Regions from separate parts of the Homo sapiens genome. Here region 2 is linked to region 1. A link means that fine-mapping ties the variant in region 1 to the plasma level of a protein whose gene starts in the linked region. Region 1 holds a variant in brackets. A gene starts in the other region. All regions are shown on their forward strands.

Evidence for each region. PIP is the chance, under the fine-mapping model, that this variant and not a neighbour inherited with it causes the effect. Protein levels are from antibody-based Olink assays in UK Biobank. Linkage for the fine-mapping came from a reference panel and not from the study's own genotypes, which makes the PIPs less certain.
Region 2: it holds the start of CLEC4C, and the variant in region 1 is fine-mapped to the plasma level of the CLEC4C protein (UK Biobank, PIP above 0.99).

What each region holds. Positions count from the first base shown.
Region 1 is chr16:88,975,735-88,986,741 of GRCh38, forward strand. CBFA2T3 (CBFA2/RUNX1 partner transcriptional co-repressor 3) reads right to left here and starts at 1,473. Exons shown (of 12, transcript NM_005187.6): 1 at 923-1,473. The coding sequence starts at 1,073. LOC124903756 (a long non-coding RNA gene) reads left to right here and starts at 5,329. Exons shown (of 2, transcript XR_007065183.1): 1 at 5,329-5,495; 2 at 6,222-6,552. RefSeq lists enhancers at 1-142, 1-4, 1,845-1,894, 7,725-8,225, 7,931-7,990 and a silencer at 6,438-6,640. The variant C/T (reference allele first, on the strand shown) is at 3,091.
Region 2 is chr12:7,742,132-7,753,138 of GRCh38, forward strand. It overlaps CLEC4C (C-type lectin domain family 4 member C), which reads right to left and starts at 5,244. Exons shown (of 6, transcript NM_001371390.1): 1 at 5,187-5,244; 2 at 4,200-4,292. The coding sequence starts at 5,217. RefSeq lists enhancers at 7,020-7,099, 7,120-7,299, 7,480-7,559.

The sequences.
Region 1 (11,007 bases):
GGGCCCCACGGGCAGCTGCAGGTGGGAACAGCCTCAGGCAGCCGCCGCCAGGACCTGCTCAGGGAATGTGGTCTCCAGAGATGGGGACACCCCTCGGTCCCGGGTTCTGTGTGTGAGTGTCAGGGGTGCAGTCAGACCTTGGACCTGACGGCCTCAGTGAGAGCCCCGCGAGACGGGAGACTGTGAGCTCCTGAAGGTTCCGACGGCTGCTGGGAGTGTGGCCACGAGGGCCACTGGGAATCGGGGCCACCAGCCTGCAGCTGCAGCCCCCAGCGTCCGGGGATCCTTGTCCTGGGACTTCGCAGGCTCGGGTGGGGGGTATCAGCAATAGCTGGCGTCCTGCTGGACTGGACCCCTCCCCAGAGCCCGAAGCCCCCAGAAGGGCAGGCCCAGGTTCCCCGTAAACCCCCACTGCCCTGGCTGGAATCGTTCCTCGGACAGGGGCCCAGGGTTGGGTCCATTTCCTCCTCACCGGGGTCTTGGGCCAGTGCCCTCCCCTCTGGCCTCAGTTTCCTCATCCAACCTGCTGTGAGGTGTCACACCCGGAGGGCATCCCAGGAGGAGGAGGGCTCTCTTTCTAGGACCCCCCCATCACTTCCCGGCTGCGGCCCTCCCACCCCCAGGAGAACACAGCCCACCCTCCTAGACGGGGCTGAGCAGCCCGGCCTCCAGCATCTGCCTCTGGGTGGGGCTGGGGCACCTGGCTGGCACCTGCCAAACCCTCACCAGCCCACCTGCCCCAGCTGTGCAGGACCTGCCTGTGGGGTGGCCCTGTTGATATCTGAGGTGAGTCAACACGGCCATCCGTGCCGGCACTGTCAACTAAGCTGGGCAGGCCCCGCGAAGCTCTAAGGAGTCACAGCCCCGGCACCGGCTGCCGCTCTCTGCCCCCACCCCACCACCTTCCCCTCGAGCCTCTTACCTGGGCCGCCCTTCCTGGGACCCCGGGGTGCGGAGCAGCCGGCAGATGCCAGGAGGCCGCTCTCCAGCACAGGGTGCGTCTGGGACATGGAGCCACAGGTGGATCCCGAGGCTGAACTGGCTGCCCTGTCCCTCAGTCTTGAAGCCGGCATGAGGAGGGCCACCCTCAGGGGCCAACCTGGAGCCCAGGACAGGCCTCTACCAGGACTGCCTTTCCCGACCTCCTGCAGCCTTGAGGGAAAGAGGAGGGGCTGGGCCAGCTGGGGCGTCCTGGAGTTGGGCCTCTGTCCCTGGAAAGCCGAGGCCCTCCCGGCCACCAACTGGGTGTCCTCTGCCCTGGGGAGGGGGTGGGAGCCCTGGGGCTCATGTGACGCGGGGCGGGCCTGGGGCTGCAGGCTGGGGAAGGTCTCCCTGCAGCCTGCGGGTGAGGCAGCCAGCTGTGTCCCCGTGATAATGCCGGGGCCGGAGGCCTGCAGCTGCGCCCGCCACTTCCCTGACAGGAACCATCTGGGGCCCTGCCCTGCGCGGCCTTCCCTCGGGCCATTCCGGTTTGACCTTCCAACAACTTCCTCCTCCCAGGCAGCTCTGGTGACGTCCCACCCACCCTGAGCCCTACAGCGTGGCCACTGGGCATGTGTTTCCTCGGCCCCAGGGCAGGTGTGCAGGCCTGAGGGCAGCTCCATCCTGGCCCAGAGCCCTTGGCCTGTCCCGCCCACCCATCTTCCCCCCAGGGCTTGGCCCTTCCTTCAGCCTGGGGTATCTGGGGGTGTCCTCCCTCTCCGCTAGCCCTCAGTCAGCCGAGCTTTCCCCAGCACCCCTTTTAGTTTGCCCCCGCTCCAGGGGCCACCCTGCCCGTGTTCCTGTGTCTGCTGACTGTGCCCTTGAGCAAGGCGGGGCCTCTGACCAGCCTCTCCTCAGCCCCTGCTCCGGGGTTCTTGGGCACCTGACCTGTCCTCAAAGTACCTCCCGCCTGCTGGGAAGGAAACCCTCTCTCTCTGCTTGGCCTCGTGCACAGGGCTCCTGGCCCTCTGTGGAGACAGCAGGGCTCCCCCACTCTCCGGGGGTGCCTCAGAAAGACCCTCACCCCACGCCCCAGCGGCCGCCTCCGGTGAGCAGCCTGGAGTTTGCGGGGGTCGGGGGTAGGTGGCTTCTCCAGTCTGGGAAATTCCAGAAGCCACCTCAGAGCACTCTTGGGACTACTTAGACCCTAGGGAGAGTCCTAGGACCCCTTTCTAGCGGCCGTTGGGCTGAGAGAGTGAGGCACATCCCAGATGCTGGGAAAAAAAGCCACTTTCTAAAGCTCCCTGACAACTGTCAGAGGGCAGGAGCTTCCTGGGAGGGGACAGTGACCCTTCGGCCCTGCAGCCCTGGTTCGGTGGCTTTTCTGATGCCATGGCTGGAGGTTTCCCGGCCTCAGACAGGCCAGAGGTGTGGAGCCCGCAGACCCAGGGCCGGCTCACGGGCATCTGTGCTATTTTGATTTGATTTGATTTGAGTTTTAGGTCACGTTTGCACGCAGTTAATAATTCAAGCCGTGCAGGAGTAAAAGCCGACTCCTTCCCCGCAGGGTCTCCAGGTGTCCCGGGTCTCCCTGTCCCAATAGTCGAGTGTCTTTCTCGAGTTGGTGACAACAAGCTGCATGCCAGCGTGTGTGTCCAGCTTACAGTGGGGATGTGTTTGTTCCTGCTGGGGAACTTCCCAGACGCCAGGCCCACCCGGGGCCTCCCCTGCCCTGGGTGGTCGGCCGTTCTGCCCCCAGGACTGAGGCTGGAGGGGACATTCCTGCCAGCCCGGGGCCCATCCCCTGGTGCCATCATTCGGTCCCCACGTCCCCTGCTGTTCCCTGTGCTCTGGCTCAGGGTGGGATTCACAGTGAGGGTCCTGGGGGCCCTGACCCTCCTGGTTTCCTCATTTGTGCAGGGTGCACGATCCTAACGGCGTCAGCTCCTACAGCGTTTCCGGGAGTGGAGACAGCAGAGGCTCTGAGCCGCCACATGGGCCGGGGCCACCGTGAGCATGTGGCTGGGGTTGGTCTGTGTCAGTGCCTATTCCCCAGCTGTGTGCAGTGAGAGTCTCAGAGTCGGGGAACTGAGGGTCTCAGGGGGCACAGCCCCCACTCCGTGAGGCAGCAGGACAGCACCCTGGGTGAGGGTGGTGGCTCCCCCCACC[C/T]GGGGTAGGAGACAGGCAGCCCTGCCCCCAGCCCTGAGGCAGATGTTCGAGGCCTGCACCTGCGCCCCCCACAGATGGGACACTTCCACTTTCGCAATGAGGCCCTGAGCTCCCCGCCTGGCCCCGTCTTGCCTGGTGTCTAATCAGGGGGTCTGACGGAGGTGGGGTTGGAAAGAGAAGAGAAGAAAGTTGCCCACAAGTTGGGGGCAGGAGCTGCCCCCCAACTTTGGCGGCCACCTGGGGGTGTGGGCACCACTCCCCACCTCCCCACTACCGGCCTCCTCTCCCCCAGGCCGGGCAGTTGGTGCTTGTGGGGAAGCAGACGTTGGCTGTGGCTTTCAGAGCTGGGCGGCCAGGAGATAAGGGGCTGGGGAGGAAGTGGCTGCAGAGGTGGGGGCAGCAGGAGGGGCCTCGGCTTCTCCCAGGGACCTCTGCTGTCTGCAGCCAGCACCCAGCCTCTCGGGGCAGGAGGGGCCTTTCCTTCCTTCCTAAAAGACCTATTAGGGCCTACTGGGGTTCTTTCGGTGTCCAAGACAGCCCCTGGTCCTGCTCTCTGGGAACTATAGGAGACACGTTCCATCAACATGGCCCAGCATGTGGGGCCCATAGGGCAGTTGGGGAAACTGTCCCTGGGTGGGCAGAGGGGCCCTAAGGCAGGCTTTGGTGAATCTGTAGGATGGCCAGAGAACTGGAGGAGGGTGAGGGGGCAGTGGGGGAGATGACGCCATGTGGGGGTGGGTGAGGAGGCCTTCCTTCAGGCAGGGTGTCTTATGTTTGCCTTCTCTTCTAGCATGTAGGAACCCCCCCACCCCCAACACACACACCCTTCACTGCTGGATGAATAGATGAATGAATAGATTGATGAATGAATGGGTGGGTGGGTGAGTGGATGGGTGGGTAGATGATGGGTGGATGGGTGGGTGGGTGGATGAGTGAATGGGTGGATGGATGGGTGGATAGATGGGTGAGTGGGTGGATAGATGGGTGAGTGAGTGAGTGGGTGGATGGGTGGGTGGATGGATAGATGTGTGGATGGGTGGGTGGATGGATAGATGGGTGAATGGGCGGAAAGATGGGTGAATGGGTGGATGGATGAATGGATAAATGGGTAAATGGGTGGGTGGATGGAGAGATGGGTGAATGGGTGGGTAGGTAGATGGATGGGTGTGTGGGTGAATGAATGGTGGATGGGTGTGTGGGTGGGTGGGTGGATAGATGGGTGAATGTGTGGATGGGTGGATAGACGGGTGAATGGGTGGATGAGTGGATAGATGAGTGAATGGGTGGATGGATGGATGGATGGATAAATGGGTGAATGGGTGGTGGATGGATAGATGGGTGGATGGGTGGGTAGATGGGTGAATGGGTGGATGGGTGGATAGATGGGTGAATAGGTGGAAGGATGGATGGATAAATGGGTGAATGGGTAGGTGGATGGATAGATGGGTGGATGGGTGGATGGATGGAGAGATGGGTGAATGGGTGAGTAGGCGAATGGATAGGTGGGTGGGTGAATGTGTGGATGGATGGGTGGATGGAGAGATGGGTGAATGGGTGGGTAGGTGGATGGATGGGTGTGTGGGTGAATGAATGGTGGATGGGTGTGTGGGTGGGTGGGTGGATAGATGGGTGAATGTGTGGATGGGTGGATAGACGGGTGAATGGGTGGATGAGTGGATAGATGAGTGAATGGGTGGATGGATGGATGGATGGATGGATGGATAAATGGGTGAATGGGTGGTGGATGGAGAGATGGGTGAATGGGTGAGTAGGTGAATGGATCGGTGGGTGGGTGAATGTGTGGATGGATGGGTGGATGAATGGGTGCGTGGATGGGTGGATGGATGAGTGGATCAGTGAATGGGTGGGTAGGGATGGATGGGTGGATAGACAGGTGAATGAGTGGATGGATGGATACATGGGTGGATGGGTGGATAGGTGGATGGATGGGTGGATGGGTGGGTGGATGGGTGAATGGGTGGATGGGTGGATGGATGGGTGGATGGATGGGTGGATAGATGGGTGGATGGGTGAATGGATGGATGGATGGATGGGTGAATAGATGGGTGCATGGGTGAATGGGTGGGTAGGTGGATAGATGGGTGGGTGGGTCAATGTGTGGATGGATGGGTAGAGGGGTGGGTGGATGGGTGGATGGGTGGGTGGGTGGGTGGATGGGTGGATGGGTGGGTGGGTGGATAGGTGGATCAATGAATAAGTGGTAATATGGTTTTATGTAAGTCTCATGCCAGCCCACTTTACAGAGGAGGGAGGAGGCCCACAAGGGTGCCATCCCCAGTCACAAAGCCTGGAGAGAGGAATGTAAGTCGCGAAGCCGCTCCAGAGGATGCTGAACAGTGTCATGTACGGAGGAGCCTTGCCCCGGCTTTCTGGTCCTGAATAAGGTGTGGACAGTTGGGGTGAGCCACAGAGGGAGTGGGGGCCGGGGGTGGAGGCAGGAAAAAACCTGCCCCGGGTGTTCAAGGCAGTGCAGGTGAAGCGGCTCATAGCTGGATGCTCAGCCACTCCCCAGCTCAGGGCACGGCTGAGCAAACCCAGAACCACGGAGAAGGTGCCATGGCCGGAGGGCTGGGGTGATTTGGGGAAACCTGGTACAAAGTGGTGCAGGATTCCAGGGCTCTGAGACTGCAGTTACTGGGCGCTCCTGCCACCCCCAGAAAGAGCAGGTCTACCTGGGGAGTCCGAGCCGAGGCGCAGGCCGGAGACACCCCAATGAGAGCACGGAACTGGAATCGGGGTCTTCACCTTCCCGGTGTGTGGACTCCTTGGGCATCTAGTAAGCAAATAAGTTCACAGAATTATGAAGGAAACCCATTTTACCAAAATACAGCTACCACCCCGTTAGAACATTCTGGTGTAGTGAGCACTGTGCTTTTCATTAAGCCATGATTTAAAGTGGTGAGGCGTGGGAACCGCATTAGGAGACGTGGTGGTGAGTGGAAGGCGAGGGGGGTCTTTTGTGGAGCCCTGGACCCTCCCAAGGCGTGGCTGCTTGGGGCCCACCAAAGTGGCCCTGGGGCAGCTCTATCGGTGTCAACGGCACAGGCGCGGCTGACACCCTGGGGAGGTGCCCACGTTCTTGGTTACAGGAAAGGCTAAATTTTGGTTAGAGACACGACACAATGCCAGATGAAACTCATCCAAGTCCACGGATCCCCTGAATTCCAAGGAAAGAACCGCGGTTCCAGCTTCCCTCGAAGGTGTCCCCCGGTCCCGCTCACCACCTCAGCTTCCAGGAGTCTCCGGTGGGACAGCCGGAACCCCACTGAGGGTCTCGAAGTCACAGGCCCCTGGTTCACACTCAGCATTTCCTGTCTGTGCTGGGTACGCTTGGGCAAATGTCTTGACCCGTTTCCCCAACTGTAAAGTAAGAAGGTAACAGAGTCAGCTGAATGGGGGTGTGGTGAGGATTTAATAAAACCGTCCACGTTTGGACTCTCCTATGGTGCCCGTGAAGGTGGGCAAGCACGGACGGGCAGCTGTGACCCCTGCGAGATCCCTGAGCCGTGAAGGGGCCAGCCCAGGGGGACAGTGGAATCCCCACACCGCCTTCTGGCCATGGCCGCCTCCGGGGCAGGCGCGTTGCTGCTAGAAAGCTCTTCCTAAATTGAGCTCAGGTCGGCATCCCTGCAGATGCGGCCCCTCTCCGGAAGAGTGCTTTGGAAGGGAGAAAGGGCTCTCCCAGCCCCACCGCCGCCCCCTGGAGTCAGCCACAGCCTCCTCCCCCACAGCCTCCTCCCCCACAGCCCTCCCGCCCCCATGGCAAGAGACCTGCTTCAATTGTGATGTGGCTGCCCCGCCCCTCCTCTTAAACCTTCAGTGGCTGCCCACCTCCCTCAAGATCAAGGCCAGACCCTGAAGGTGGCTGGGGGCCCCTCCACACTCTGCCCCAACCCTACATCAGAGCCGCTTCTCCTGAGGGTGTTTCCTCATCTCTGGGCCTTCCCCAGCCCTCCCATCGAAACTTGCCTCACGTGGCGGGCTCCTACCCAGCCCTCAGAGCCCATAGGAAGTGCCCTGTCCTGTCCTGGGCTCCACACCCCCTGCACACCTTCCTGGGTTCCACACCCCCTTCACACCTTCCTGGGCTCCATGCCCCCTGCACGCCTCCATCACAGCATTAGCACCTTGGGTTGCAGTTGCTGTGGGCTGGTTTCCTTGGACCCACAGGAAAGCAGCCCTGGGCGGGAACCTTGCCTGTCTCCAAGGGCTGTGTTCCCGGCACAAGGCGCAGGGCTCCATGGGTGATGACTGGCTGGCGGAGTTTGGCACACCCACCTCTGGGTCCCCCACACGACACCTGGAACTTCTCTAGGCTGAATTCCACCTCTCTCGCCCTCAGGACTCCCCTGGGGCTCTGCCCCACACACATCCCAGGGAACACAGAGGAAATGGCCGGTCTCCCCAGCTGCTTCCGAAGAGCAGGATGGGCTGAGACTCCAGGCCCGGCCGCCCAGCGCAGCCTTGGGACCCTGGGGCAGCCCCCAAGGCCTAGGGGGCTCAGTGGCCTTTGCCCGGACAGGAGGGCCTTCCCCAGCTCATCAGCCACCCCAGGCGGGTAGTGGGTGTGGGACAGAGAGCTGACGGCAGTCAGAGGCCACAGCCCCACAGGACCCGCTGTTCCCTTGGCTGGCATCCTCCTCCCCTCCTGAAGCGCATGGGGCTGAGCCCAGCAGGGTGGAGTCTGAACAGAGACAGGAATTTGAGCATCAGGGCAGCAACAGCGTCGCCCCCGCTTCCTGAGCACCCTGGACTTGCGGGGGACGCTGGTGACCTGGTGGCATATATTCGGTGTCTGACAGGACTGGAGAGGTTAAGCAATTTCCCAGGTCACCAGCGGTGGGATTTGGGACTCAGGCTGGGTCTAAGCCAGTCCTCTCCCTGAGGCAGAGAGCCTGCTGTGGCTACACCCACCCAGCTTCCAGGACACGGAGCCCTCTGCCCACCGTGGTCTCTGCTCCTCCCCAGCGCCCAGGAGGCATCAAGACCCGGCAAGGCTGCCCGTTCTGCAGAACAGGAAACCGAGGCTCCCAGAGGGGAAAGTCCCAGCCTCCCTGGGGGTCCCAGGGTCCTGGGCTGCTGCACCCCAGCTGCAAAGGGGGAAGCCCCGTCCGGAGGCCACTTTCCCTGTAAGGAGCCCAGGCGGGGTGAGGGCTGCGACGTGCCGGTGCCGCCCCGGTTTCCCTCTGACTCAGGCTGAGGCGGCTGCCCCTGTGCTGGTGCCATGTCTAGTCCGCAGGCCCCACACCGGTGACCTGCCCTCATCTCATCTCCTGTGAGTCCGCGAGTCCACGGCTCTGCCGACGGGGGGTGGTGTGTGTGCAGCAGAAGGAATGAACGAGGGAACCCCTGCCCTGTGCTCTTCCTCTCCTCCCCTCCGTCCTGCCTGGGTGTTCACAGCAGCTTAAGAGGGAAGAACGTGGCCCTGGCCTACCCACCAATGTTCTAGAACATTCTGGAACATTCTGTTCTCAGCCCGGAGCCTGGGAACTGGGTAAACCTGGGCCATCGAGCGGCATCCAACATGAGGAAAATACCAAGAGGCTGGTGTGTGGTTCTGTGTGTGTGGCGCGTGGCGCGTGGTGCGTGGGGAGAGGCAGCCGCCCGCCCTCCAGAGCCAGGGTGCCACCTCCTGCGTCATAGACACCTCCCCCAAGCAGTGCCAAGCTCCTGCCTCCCACCAGTGGCTACTTCGGGCTGCAGTGGGGCCTGGGGCCACGGAAGACCCAGCTAGGTCTGGCCAAGAGGCCCAAGGATATTCCAGGCACCCGGAAGGATCCGGAAGGATCTGGGAGTCTTGGGTTAAGAACCATGCAGCCTGACCTGCTCCAAACGTGGACTTCGTCCCTGAAGAGGCTGCAGGACCCTAACCATTCGCGTCCTGGGCGATTGTGAGTGTGATGGACGATCACAGCACTGTTATTGTATCTTAGAGCTGAACTGGAAGACAAACTGGCCTGTATCCAATAAGAAAAAAACTTTGTGTTTTGCTTCCATTATTTATTTTTTCTGAGGCAGGGTCTTGCTCTGTCACCCAGGCTGGAGTGCAGCAGTGCGATCTTGGCTCACCGCAGCCTCCACCCCCTGGGCTCAAGCGAATCTCCTGCATCAGCCTCTTGAATAGCTGGGACCAGAGGCGCCCGCCACCATGCCTGGTTAATTTTTTATGTTTTGTAGAGATGGGGCCTCACTATGTTGCCCAGGCTGGTCTCAAACTCGTGGCTGAAGCGATTCTCCTGTCTCAGCCTCCCAAAGTGCTGGGATGACAGGCATGAGCCACTGCACCCGGCCTCATGGCTTTTTAATAGTTAGGTTTCTATTGACCTTGTTTTCAGACACACACAAGCTTAGAGGATATAACACAGGCTTGTGGATCAAGCACTCTGCTTCACTGAACTTGAAACATTTTAAACATCAGATTCTTTTAAGGCGCCTTTGGGTGCCCTGGCCTAAAACACCCTTCCCACTCTGCCCGTGTTCAGTCCTGACTCCAGACACCGCGGAAAGTGAGAGGGGTCGGGCAGGGGAGTCCAGGGGTTCTCAGAGCGCAGTCCCTGACCCTGCGCCCATGTTCAGTCCCGACTCCAGACACCGAGGAAAGTGAGAGGGGTCTGGGAGGGGAGTCCGAGGGTTCTCAGAGCGCAGTCCCTGACCCTGGGAGCTTGTCAGAAATCCTCACCCACCCAGGATCTGTGCGTGGGGCACCTGGGGCTGTCCTGGGTCTGCTCCGATTGTCCCCGAGGGGATCTGGAGGGACGAGGTTGCCCCGGGGTCTGCTTGGGGACAGGGTGAGCCAGCACTGTGACTCTGTCATTGCAACGGTTGTCTCTCCCCATGGGTGGGTGGAGGGACTTCCCTGAGGCTCTGGGACCTCCCTGGCAGTTCCAGCCACCTGAGCTCGGAGCACATGTCTGTGGTGCTTGGCGTGGGGGTGGGTCCAGGGTCCAGCCCCTTCCTGGCTGTCGCCTGCAGGCCTGACCCGGCTAAGGGGGTCCAACCTGGCCTTATCCGTCTAAGGGGGTCCAACCTGGCCGGCCCGAGAGGGTAGGGCTTCTTGGGAGAAAGCTGAAGGTCATGGAGGAGAAATGGGGGCAGGGAAGACCGTCAGGCTGAAACCCCACATCGGGCAGCTCAGAGGTGGGGGCAGGGAAGACCACCAAGCTGAGTCCCCCCATCAGGCAGCTCAGGGGAGGGGGCTCCATGCTGGGCCCCTGAGCCGCCTCCTGCTGTCACAGCATGAGGTTTATCATTCAGCACCCAGGCAAGCTGGCCCTGCAGGCAGGGGTCCGGCCTCCAACCGCCTTCCGGCTGCCCCACCATGTCCAGGGACCTGCTTCAGCCCTCCAGTCGTGCTTCCTTTCTTCCCTCTGCTCACTCGGCTCCTCCTGGAAGTTCCTTCTCGCTAGCCCCCAGGGGGTTTGGATGCTGGACCCTGGGGAAGGGGCCTTGGGGTCTGTAGCAGGGCATCTGAGGGTCCTGGGACACCCAGAAACCCCAGGAAGGCTGTGGGTGACTCAGCAAACCCACAAGCCGGGGGGTCTCTCAGGCATGTGCTGCAGGGGGGGTATGATGTGGGGTCTGCTCTGAGTGAGGGTCTCGGCCCTTGTCTGCTCCTTGTCCCCCTGTCCCAGCCACAGCCCGCTCCACTCCCAACTCTGCCCACGGCTCACCCCGGGCCTCTCAGACCCTCGCCTCTGGGACCCCCTTGTGAAGATCCGCCTGCCCCCCTACAGCCCCACAGCCCCCATCCTGCTTTGCAGCCCCCTCCCTGCTTTGCTTGTCTTGAATAGCAGGTGGCACTCTCTGATGTGCTGAACGTTGTTTACTGCCTGTCTCTCCCGCTAGGTCAGCTCCAGGGAGATGAGCTTTTTCTTTTTCTTTTTCTTTTTTTTTTTT
Region 2 (11,007 bases), not on the chromosome of region 1:
ATCGTGCCATTGCACTCCAGCCTGGGTGACAAGAGTGCAACTCCATCTCAAAAAAATAAATAAATAAATAAATAAAAATAAAGAATCTTATGACTTTACGGCTGGGCATGGTGGCTCACACCTGTAATCCCAGTACTTTGGGAGGCCAAGGCGGGTGGATCACCTGAGGTCAGGAGTTCAAGCCCAGCCCAGCCAACATGGTGAAACCCTGTTTCTACTAAAAATACAAAAATTAGGTGGGCATGGTGGCACATGCCTGTAATCCCAGCTACAGGAGGCTGAGGCAGGAGAATCACTTGAACCTGGGAGGTGGAGGTTGCAGTGAGCAGAGACCGTGCCATTGCACTCTAGCCTGGGCAATAGAGCCAGACTTTGTCTCGAAAAAAAAAAAAAAAAGCCTGGGCACAGTGGCTCATGCTTGTAATCCCCAGCACTTTGGGAGGCCGAGGTGGGTGGATCATGAGGTCAGGAGTTTGAGACCAGCCTGACCGACATGGTGAAACCCCATCTCTACTAAAAATACAAAAATTAGCCAGGCGTGGTGACACGTGTCTATTAATCCCAGCTACTCAGGAGGCTGAGGCAGGAGAATCACTTCGACCTGGGAGGCGAAGGTTGCAGTGAGCCGAGATCGCACCACTGCACTCCAGCCTGGCAACAGAACGAGACTCCATCTCAAAAATAAATAAATAAATAAATAAATAAATAAATAAATAAATAAATAAACGTTATGCTCTTACAAAGTCTGCAACATCTCTCTCTTGCCCATCCCATTTCAAGCCGTACTGTTTTTTTCTCATGCTTCTTTCTGTGCAGGTCCAGTAAAAAATATGTTCTTAACCCTATCTTATATTCATTTATCTTGTTTGTTTATAAGTTTACATACGTATATATCTTGATTTCCCCCTACAATAACATACAGTCTAGTGAAGGAATTTCATTGTATTCACGCTATATACCCAGCACCTAGAAAAGTGGCCTGCTCATAGTAGGTGTTCAGTAAGCATTTGTTGACTTACTAGGTAACAGCATCTAATTCTATTAATCCTGAAATATCACAGGTCTTTTGGTTTTTCCATAGTTTTCTGATGGCTGTAACTGTAAGTAAACCATTTGGGTCAAATTAAATATAAGGTAAAACCTAACCCTTTGGAGACATTTAGACATCTTTTGCTAAAAACGGTCTCTTTTGTTCACTGGCAGGCACATAGAGCAAGATCTGACTTTTCACTTATCCTCACTTAATTCTTTTTTTTTTTTTTTCTTTTTTTGAGATGGAGTCTTGCTCTGTCGCCCAGGCTGGAGTGCAGTGGCGCGATCTTGGCTCACTGCAAGCTCCGCCTCCTGGGTTCATGCCATTCTCCTGCCTCAGCCTCCTGAGTAGCTGGCACTACAGGCGCCCGCCACCGCGCCCGGCTAATTTTTTTTGTATTTTTTTTTTAGTAGAGACAGGGTTTCACCATGGTCTCGATCTCCTGACCTCGTGATCCGTCCGCCTCGGCCTCCCAAAGTGAGCCACCACGCCCGGCCTTAATTCTTTATTCATGTATTTCATCATTCTGATTTTGAGACTAAACCTAGTCAAACTCTTCTATTTTCTCTGAATTTATGTCTTTAAGTTCTTGCATGTCTTCTTTCCTCTCAGATAATTAAATAACCATCTTGTATTAGTCCGTTTTTGCATTGCTATAAAGGAATACCTGAGACTTGGTATTTATAAAGAAAAGACATTTTACTGGCTCACAGTTCTGCAGACTGTACAGTAAGTATGGTGCCAGCATCTGCTCACCTTCTGGTGAGGCCTCAGGAAGCTTTCAGTCATAGTGGAAGGCAAAGCGGGAGCTGGCATATCACATGGCAAGAGAGGGTGCAAGAGAGAGTGAGGGGGAGGGGCTGATCTCACCCCAACTCAGAGCAAGAACTCACTTATTCCTTCGAGGAGGGTGCCAAGCCATTCATGAGGGATCCATCTGCATCACTCAAAACCTCCTGCCATGCCCCACCTCCAACAGTGGGGATTTCAAATTTCAAGTGATAGTTGTCCCTTCCAAATTTCAAATTTTCAACATGAGACTTGGAAGGGACAACTATCCCAACCATATCACATCTTTAAGCCCTTTTGTCTCTTGCCCTTTGTTATAAAAAGCAAAGCAAAGTTTAACTTTAGTAATAATTCTGCCTCTTGGGGTTACATTGAAAACTGTGAGATGTATTTACAACTAGAAAGAAACTGAAGACTGTATCATCAACACATTTTTACTTGACATAGGAAGTCATCGTATTCAGTAACTTCCTCACAGATGTTTCATTTCTGTTTCTAATCATAATATTAGATAATAGAGCACATTTTGACACCCAAATAGTAAACAAGAGAGTTGGGAAATTTCTCAGGTGTCACAAAAATATAAAACTTGGCAAAGGGAGTAGCAATTAAATAATAGTTTACTTTGTTTATTTTTCCATTGTATCACTGTATAAACATTTATTTTTATTTTTATTTTTTGAGACAGGGTCTCTCTGTCGCCCAGGCTGGATTGCAGTGGTACGATTATGGCTCACTGCAGCCTCAACTTCCTGGGCTCAAGCGATCCTCCTGCCTCAACCTCCTGAGTAGCTGGGACCACAGGCACATGCCACCATGCCAAGTTATATTTTTTATTTTTTATGGAGACAGGGTCTCATTCTGTTGCCCAGGCTGGTCTTGAACTCCTGTCCTCAAGCGATCCTCCCACCTGAGCCTCCCAAAGTGCTCACAGGTGTGAGCCACTGCCTGGCCATATGAACAATTTTTCCTGTCATGTTGGGAAGAATCTCACATGAAGATTAAAACCCCACAGTAATACAATTATAGCATCATAGAAAGAATAATAGTTATGTTCCCAATAGAGACTTTTTTAAAACAAAGGAGCAGATCAACTAGATGGTACCCACCATCAGCACACCCATCAAAGTGGAGTTATTGTTATAGAATGAATTGCGTCCTCCCCAAGTTCATATATGGAAGTCCCAAGCTCCAATTTGTGGTATTTGAAGATAGGGGCTTTGGGAGGAAATCAGGTTTAGATGAGGTTATGAGGGGGGGCTCTCATGGTGAGATGAATGCTCTTATAAGAAGAAACCGTGACGAGCTAGCACTCCCTCCATCATGTGAGGACACAGCAAGAGGGCATCAGCTGTAAGCCAGGAAGAGGGACCTCACCATACCCAACCATCCTGACATCCTCATGTCAGACTTCCAGCCTCCAGAACCATCAGAAAATAAATATCTGTTTTTTAACTCACTCAGTCTATGCTTTTTTTTTTTTTTTTTTTTTTTTTTGAGACAGAGTCTCACTCTGTCACCCAGGCTGGAGTGCAGTGGCGTGATCTCGGCTCACTGCAACCTCTGCCTCCTGGGTTCAACTGAGTCTCCTGCCTCAGCCTCCCAAGTAGCTGGGATTACAGGCGCGAGTCACTGCACCCAGCTAATTTTTGTATTTTTAGTAGAGACAGGGTTTCACTATATGGTCCAAGCTGGTCTTGAACTCCTGACCTCAGGTGATCTGCCTGCCTTGGCCTCCCGAAGTGCTGGGATTACAGGCATGAGCTACCACGCCTGGCCCAGTCTATGGTATTTTGTTATGGCAGCCCAAGCTGACCAAGACAGTTATGATCACATTTGAAAAATGCAACTAAAACCAGGCAAAGAAACCTGGAAGTACACACAATTATCCAGAATAATTAATAATAGTAATAACTCATTTTATTAGAAACATAGCCTTCTCAGTTAGGGTTGCCATTTTATGTCAAGAAAGGGGAACGTGGCCGGGCGCGGTGGCTCACACCTGTAATCCCAGCACTTTGGGAGGCCAAGGTGGGCGGATCACGAGGTCAGGAGATCGAAACCACCCTGGCTAACACAGTGAAAACCCGTCTCTACTAAAAATACAAAAAATTAGCCAGGCATGGTGGCGGGCACCTGTAGTCCCAGCTACTCGGGAGGCTGAGGCAGGCGAATGGCATGAACCCGGGAGGTGAGCTTGCAGTGAGCCGAGATCACGCCACTGCACTCCATCCTGGGCGACAGAGCGAGATTCCGTCTCAAAAAAAAAAAAAAAAAAAAGAAAAAAAAAGAAAGAGGAACGTGTTTCTTCAGGAAATTGATAAAATGTGATTGGGAAAAGGACCAAGAGATGACTGCACTCCAGCCAAGAACTTACCCACAGAACTCACAGTGAAACAGACACTGAGGAGCAAGATGGATACGACTGCCATGGACCAGACCTTCAACTGGAACCACCAGAGTCCTTTCTCTGTCAGATCAGCATGACAAATGCACAGTCATAATCCCCACTGCCAAAGAGCCAGGAAACCAGAGTCCCAAAAATCTTAGAATAATAAAGTCAGGCTATGATCAAAACTAATTAAAACAGAAAAAATGTGAAAGCAAAAAGAGATTATAGAAATTATCTCAGAACAAATGACCAGATAGTACCCTGGAACCCAAGACAAATCCAGGCAAAACTCTCAGAGTAAACTGTACTTTCCAATTCCTTACTCTCTTTTCCCTTGAATTGCACAGCCTTGGCCTCAAACTTCCAGGCTTAAGTGGTCCTCCTGCCTCAACCTCTGAGTAGCTGGGACTTTAGGCATTTGCCTGCATGCCTGGCCAAATTCATATTCCTTTAAGGCCTTCTAGGCCCGAGTTGTTTTTCTTTTTTTCTTTTTTTTGAGATGGAGTTTCACTCCTGTTGCCCAGGCTGGAGTGCAATGGCACGATCTCGGCTCACTGCAACCTCCGCCTCCCAGGTTCAAGTGATTCTCCTGCCTCAGCCTCCCAAGTAGCTGGGATTACAGGCATGTGCCACCACGCCTGGCTAATTTTCTATTTTTAGTAGAGACAGGGTTTCTCCATGTTGGTCAGGCTGGTCTCGAACTCCTGACCTCAGGTGCTCTGCCCACCTCGGCCTCCCAAAGTGCTGGATTACAGGCGTGAGCCACCGCGCCCGCCCGGCCTTTCTTTTTTTCTTTCATCTTTCCCTGATCCAAGTATCTTGGGTCCATACCTGTTTCCATACTGAAATTACTATTATTTATGAAAAGCTGTCTACTTCTTCTTCCAAAGTCATCCCTATCACCTCAATGCCTGTTTCCCACTCCATCCTGCTCCTACTACCTTCCCTAGAACTGAGAAGATGAGTGCTTACCTCGGTCTTGAGGCTCTTCTTCAGGCACCATTGTGTGTGCGCACACCCTTTGGACTTCCTCTATCAGGTGGGTGCAGAAGCTCTTGTATCACTTTCTCCAAAGATGTTACTTTCGGGGTGTGGTTCTTTCAAACAAGCCAAGCCCTTAGATCCTTCTTCGCCTACTCTTGCAAAGGAAGAGATGTGACTTAGGAGACTCTGCAGTGAGCTAAAGCTTTCAATTTAAAACATACATCATGTTCAGAAATAAGGAAACACAAACAAGGAAATCGAGAAATACATGAAAAACAGTTCATGGTTGCAGGTCTGATTGTCTTTTTTTTTTTTTTTTTTTTTTTTTTCTAGACAGGGTCTCACTCTGCCACCCAGGCTGGAGTATAGTGGTGCAATCTCAGCTCACTACTACCTCTGCCTCGCGGGTTCAAGCGATTCTCCTGCCTCAGCCTCCCGAGCAGCTGGGACTACAGGCATGTGCCACCATGCCCAGCTAATTTTTGTATTTTTAGTAGTGACAGGGTTTCATCATACTGGCCAGGCTTGTCTCGAACTCCTGACCTCCTGCCGTTGCACTCCAGCCTGGGCAACAAGAGCAAAACTCCATCTCCAAAAAAAAAAAAAAAAAAGCCTCTTTCATTTGTAAATTGCCCAGTCTCAGGTATGTCTTTATCAGCAGTATGAAAACGGACTAATACAGCCTCCCAAAGTCCTGGGGTTACCGTTGTGAGCCACCACGTGCCCGGCCACTGCTGAGTAATCTTAAATAGAGAAAATCCATTATAGCCTATGCTACTCAAATGGAGATGTTTGGTTGAAGGATGGTTACAACTACTGGTGAAATAGACACTGAGAAAGAAAGAACCTAGGTATTCCAGAATCTTCCCAGAGTTCAACTGAGATTTAATTGTAGAGTAGTGAGAAAAAAGTTTTGAGCTGGGCACGGTGGCTCATGCCTATAATCCCAGCACTTTGGGAAGCTGAGGTGGGCGGATCACGAGGTCAAGAGATCGAGACCATCCTGGCCAACATGGTGAAACCCCGTTTCTACTAAAAATACAAAAATTAGCCAGGTGTGGTGGTGCATGCCTGTAGTCCCAGCTACTCAGGAGGCTGAGGCAGGAAAATTGCTTGAACCCGGGAGGCGGAGCTTACAGTGAGCCGAGATCGTGCCACTGCACTCCACCCTGGGTGACAGAGCAAGACTCAGTCTCAAAAAAAAAAAAGTTTTGAGTTAGCAGCCATCCTTTGAGATATTTTAGGACCCAGACCAATGAGATCCTTTCTAAGCTGTATACTTGCTGAAACAACTTAAAGTCCTGTTTGGTCTCTTGTCTACCTCCCATTTACAGTTCCCTGAACCTCCCTCTGCCCCTGCCTCAGGGGTTCTCCCTGTTGCTTTCCTCTGTCTTGGATTAAAATGTAGAGTATGAGGGTATTCCTTTGAGTATACAATGCTGAGAAGAAAGGAGCAAAGGCAAAAATGAGAAAAATAATTTAAAATAGAACAAATTATAAAAGCAGAAAGAATGACAAATTATTTTCTCAGAAGAAAAGCAGAATTGCATGTAGGCCCAGCTCAGGTGACATCCCAGCAGAATGCTTTGAGTATGACCAGAGTATTGCAAAAGCTACAGCTGAAGAGGATAAATCTAGATAAGAATTGGTAGATGGTTTGCTCACTACTTCTTCCCCCGGTTGGTGAGGGAGGGAGTCCCAACCCAGGGTTATGGGTGGCTGGACACACAACACCCGACACTGGACAGATAAGACTGACAGCAGTTCAGCTGCATGTACTCACGGCCTGAGGCAGGAGGGCACCGCACACCATGCAGGGTCAGACAGAGGTTGCACTTGGGAGCAGGGTGACTGTGGGAGGCAGGATCTGCTGTAACAAGAGGGTGAGGTGGCCCCTTGGCTCTTGAGGGAGGATGGGATTGGCTTCTTTAAAGAATTTTGTGGCCAGGTGTAGTGGCTCGTGCCTATAATCTCAGCACTTTGGGAGGCTGAGGTGGGCGGATTGCTTCAGGCCAGGAGTTCAAGACTAGCCTGGCCAACATAGTGAAACCCCATCTCTACTAAAAATCCAAAAAATTAGCCAAGCATGGTGGCACACGTCTGTAATTTCGGCTACTCAGGAGGCTGAGGCACGAGAATCACTGGAATTTGGGAGGCAGGGATTGCAGTGAGCCGTAATCGTACCACTTCACTCCAGCCTGGGTGACAGAGTGAGATTCTGTGTCAACGAAAAAAAAAAGAGAAAAAAAAGATTTTGTGGGCCTTCAGGGAAGTGAAATCTATTAGCTTGAGGACCAGGTGGAGTGCAGCTGGCCCAGCTGAGATGGAAACTGGCTGAGTGAGAAACAGAAATATTTTTTTTTTTTGAGATGGAGTCTTTCTCTGGTCACCTAGGCTGGAGTGAGTGCAGTGGCTAAATCTTGGCTCACTGCAACCTCCACCTCCCGGGTTTAAGCAATTCTCCTGCCTCAGCATCCCGAGTAGCTGGGACTACAGGCATGCGCCACCACGACTGTCTAATTTTGTATTTTTAGTAGAGACAGGGTTTCTCCATGTTGGTCAGACTGGTCTTGAACTCCCAACCTCAGGTGATCCGCCCACCTCAGCCACCCAAAGTGCTGGGATTACAGGTGTGAGCCACAATGCCTGGCCATTTTTTGTTTTTGAGACAGGATATCAGTCTGTTGCCCAGACTGAAGTGCAGTGTCTCGACCTTCACTCACTGTAGCCTTGACCTCCTGGGATCAAGTGATCCTCCCACCTCAGCCTCCCGAGTAACTGGGACTATAGATACACGTCATTACACCTGGGGATCTTTTAAATTTTTTTTGTAGAGACAGGGTCTCGCTATGTTATTTCCCAGGCTGATCTCGAACACCTGGGCTCAGGTGATCCTCTTGCCTTGGTCTCCCAAAGTGCTAGGATTACAGATGTAAACCAGCATGCCTGGCCGGTGATGCTCTTTTAACATGAGTACCCAGTGTTTGGAATCAGGACAGGGCATCAGTTAGGTTTTGCTGTATAATCAATTAACTTAAAACTTAAAATACACAGCTATTCAATTAGTTCATAGTTCCCGAGAGTCAGCAATTTGGGCTGAACACCACTGGGTGATTCTGGTTTGGATTGGATCGGATCGGTTCCATCTCAGCTGAGCTCACTCTGCAATAAGCTGGTGGGCTGGGTGGGGCTGGCTGATTCACGTCTCTCTTTGGTCATCCTCTAGCGGATTAGCCTGGATTTACGTACATTGTGGCAGGAGGATTCCAGTAGTAGCAAGAAAACAAACCCTATTGTGTACATGCTTTTAAAAACCTGTGTGCCAGGAAATCACCAAATCACTCCAGCTATAACATTAAAAGACAACCACTCTCTTCCACTTAAAACTTATTGGCTGGCCACAATGCCTCACACCTGTAATCCCAGCACTTTGTGGGGCAAAGGCAGGAGGATTACTTGAGGCCTGGGCAACATAGTGAGACCTTCTCTCTACCAAAAAAAAAAAAACAAACAAACAAACAAACAAAAATTAGCCAGGTATGGTAGCATGTACCTGTAGTCCCAACTACTTGAGGGGCTGAGGTGGGAGAATCACCTGAGCCTTAGAGATCAGGGCTGCAGTGAGCTATAATCAAGCCACGGTGCTCCAGCCTGAGTGACAAAGACCCTACCTCTAAGATAAAATAAAAACCAAGAAGAAAAAGAAACCTCCCCAATATGTCAGTATTTACGCCTTCAGAAAAAGATTTCTATGTGAATAATGTTATATATTTGCAACATATTATCAAGCAAAGAAACCAGTAAGAGGCCAGGCACAGTGGCTCACACCTGTAATCCCAGCACTTTGGAAGTGTGTGGCAGGTGGATCACCTGAAGTCAGGAGCTTAAGACCAGGCTGCCCAACATGATGAAACCCCATCTCTGCTAAAAATACAAAAATTAGCTTAGTGTGGTGGCACTAGCCTGTAATCCTAGCTACTCAGGAGGCTGAAGCAGGAGAATCACTTGAACCCAAAGGCAGAGATTGCAATGAGCCGAGATCGTGTGTCCAGAATTGATAGGTTCTTGGTCTCACTGACTTCAAGAATGAAACCACGTACCCTCGCGGTGTTACAGCTTTTAAGATGGCACGTCTAGAGTTACTCGTTTCTCTCGGCGAGCTTGTGGTCTTGCTAGCTTCAGGAGTGAAGCTACAGACTTCCGCGGTATCACAGCTCATAAAAGAACCGTGGACCCAAACAGCGAAAGAACAAAGCTTGCACAGCACAGAAAGCAACTCGCAACCGGTTGCAACTGCTAGCTCGGGCAGCCTGCTTTTATTCTCTTATCTGGCCCCACCCACGTCCTGCTGATTGGTAGAGCCGAGTGGTCTGTTTTGACAGTGCGCTGATTGGTGCGTTTACAAACCTTGAGCTAGACATAAAGGTTCTCCACGTCCCCGTCAGATCAGTTAGATACAGAGTATCCACATAAAGGTTCTCCAAGGCCCCACCAGAGCAGCTAGATACAGAGTGTCGATTGGTGCATTCACAAACTGAGCTAGACACAGGGTGTTGATTGGTGTGTTTACAAACCTTGAGCTAGATACAGAGTGCCTATTGGTGTATTTACAATCCCTGAGCTAGACATAAAGGTTCTCCACGGCCCCACCAGACTCAGGAGCCCAGCTGGCTTCACCCAGTGGATCACTGCACTGGGGCTGCAGGTGGAGCTGCCTGCCAGTCCGCGCCCTTGCGCCCGCACTCCTCAGCCCTTGGGTGGTCGATGGGACTGGGCGCCTTGGAGCAGGGGGTGGCGCTCATCGGGGAGGCTCGGCCGCACAGGAGCCCATGGCGGGGGAGAGGTGGGAGGCTCAGGCTTGGCGGGCTGCAGGTCCCGAGCCCTGCCCCGCGAGAAGGCAGCTAAGGCCCGGTGAGAAATCAAGTGCAGCGCCGGTGGGCTGGCACTGCTGGGGGACCCAGTACACCCTCTGCAGCCGCTGGCCCGGGTGCTAAGCCCCTCATTGCCCGGGGCCGGCAGGGCCGGCCGGCTGCTCCGAGTGCGGGGCCCGCCAAGCCCACGCCCACCCGGAACTCCAGCTGGCCCGCAAGCGCCGCGCGCAGCCCCGCCTCTCCCTCCACACCTCCCTGCAAGCTGAGGGAGCCGGCTCCGGCCTTGGCCAACCCAGAAAGGGGCTCCCACAGTGCAGCGGTGGGCTGAAGGGCTCCTGAAGTGCCGCCAAAGTGGGAGCCTAGGCAGAGGAGGCGCTGAGAGCGAGCGAGGGCTGTGAGGACTGCCAGCACGCTGTCACCTCTCAATTGCGCCACTGCACTCCTGGGTGACAGAGGGAGACTCTGTCTCAAAAGAAAGAAAGAAACCAATGAGAAAAGCAGTCCTTAGGGTTTAAGATTCTATTTTATAGCTAGCCAGGTGGAGATATTGGGCTTGTGTAAGAGGAAGTTAGTGGTCAGACCACGCAGGGTGAAGTGAGAGTTTAACTTATCCAATAGCAGAAAGAGCCATTAAAGGCACTAAAGCAATGTGGTGAAAGGATCAGATTATATTTTTTTATTTATTTATTTTTTGAGACAGAGTCGACAGAGGAAGACTCCGTCTCAAAAAAATAATAATAAAAAAAAAGTCCAACTTTGAATGTATTGTTTGCAGAGGATGAAGTGGCAAAAGAGACAAAGAAGAATATCCAGAGAAATAGGAAAAGTGAGTGTCTTAGTCCATTCAGGCTATTATTATTTTTTTTCTGAGATGGAGTCTCGTTCTGTCACCCAGGCTGCAGTGCAGTGGCACGATCTTGGCTCACTGCAACCTCCAC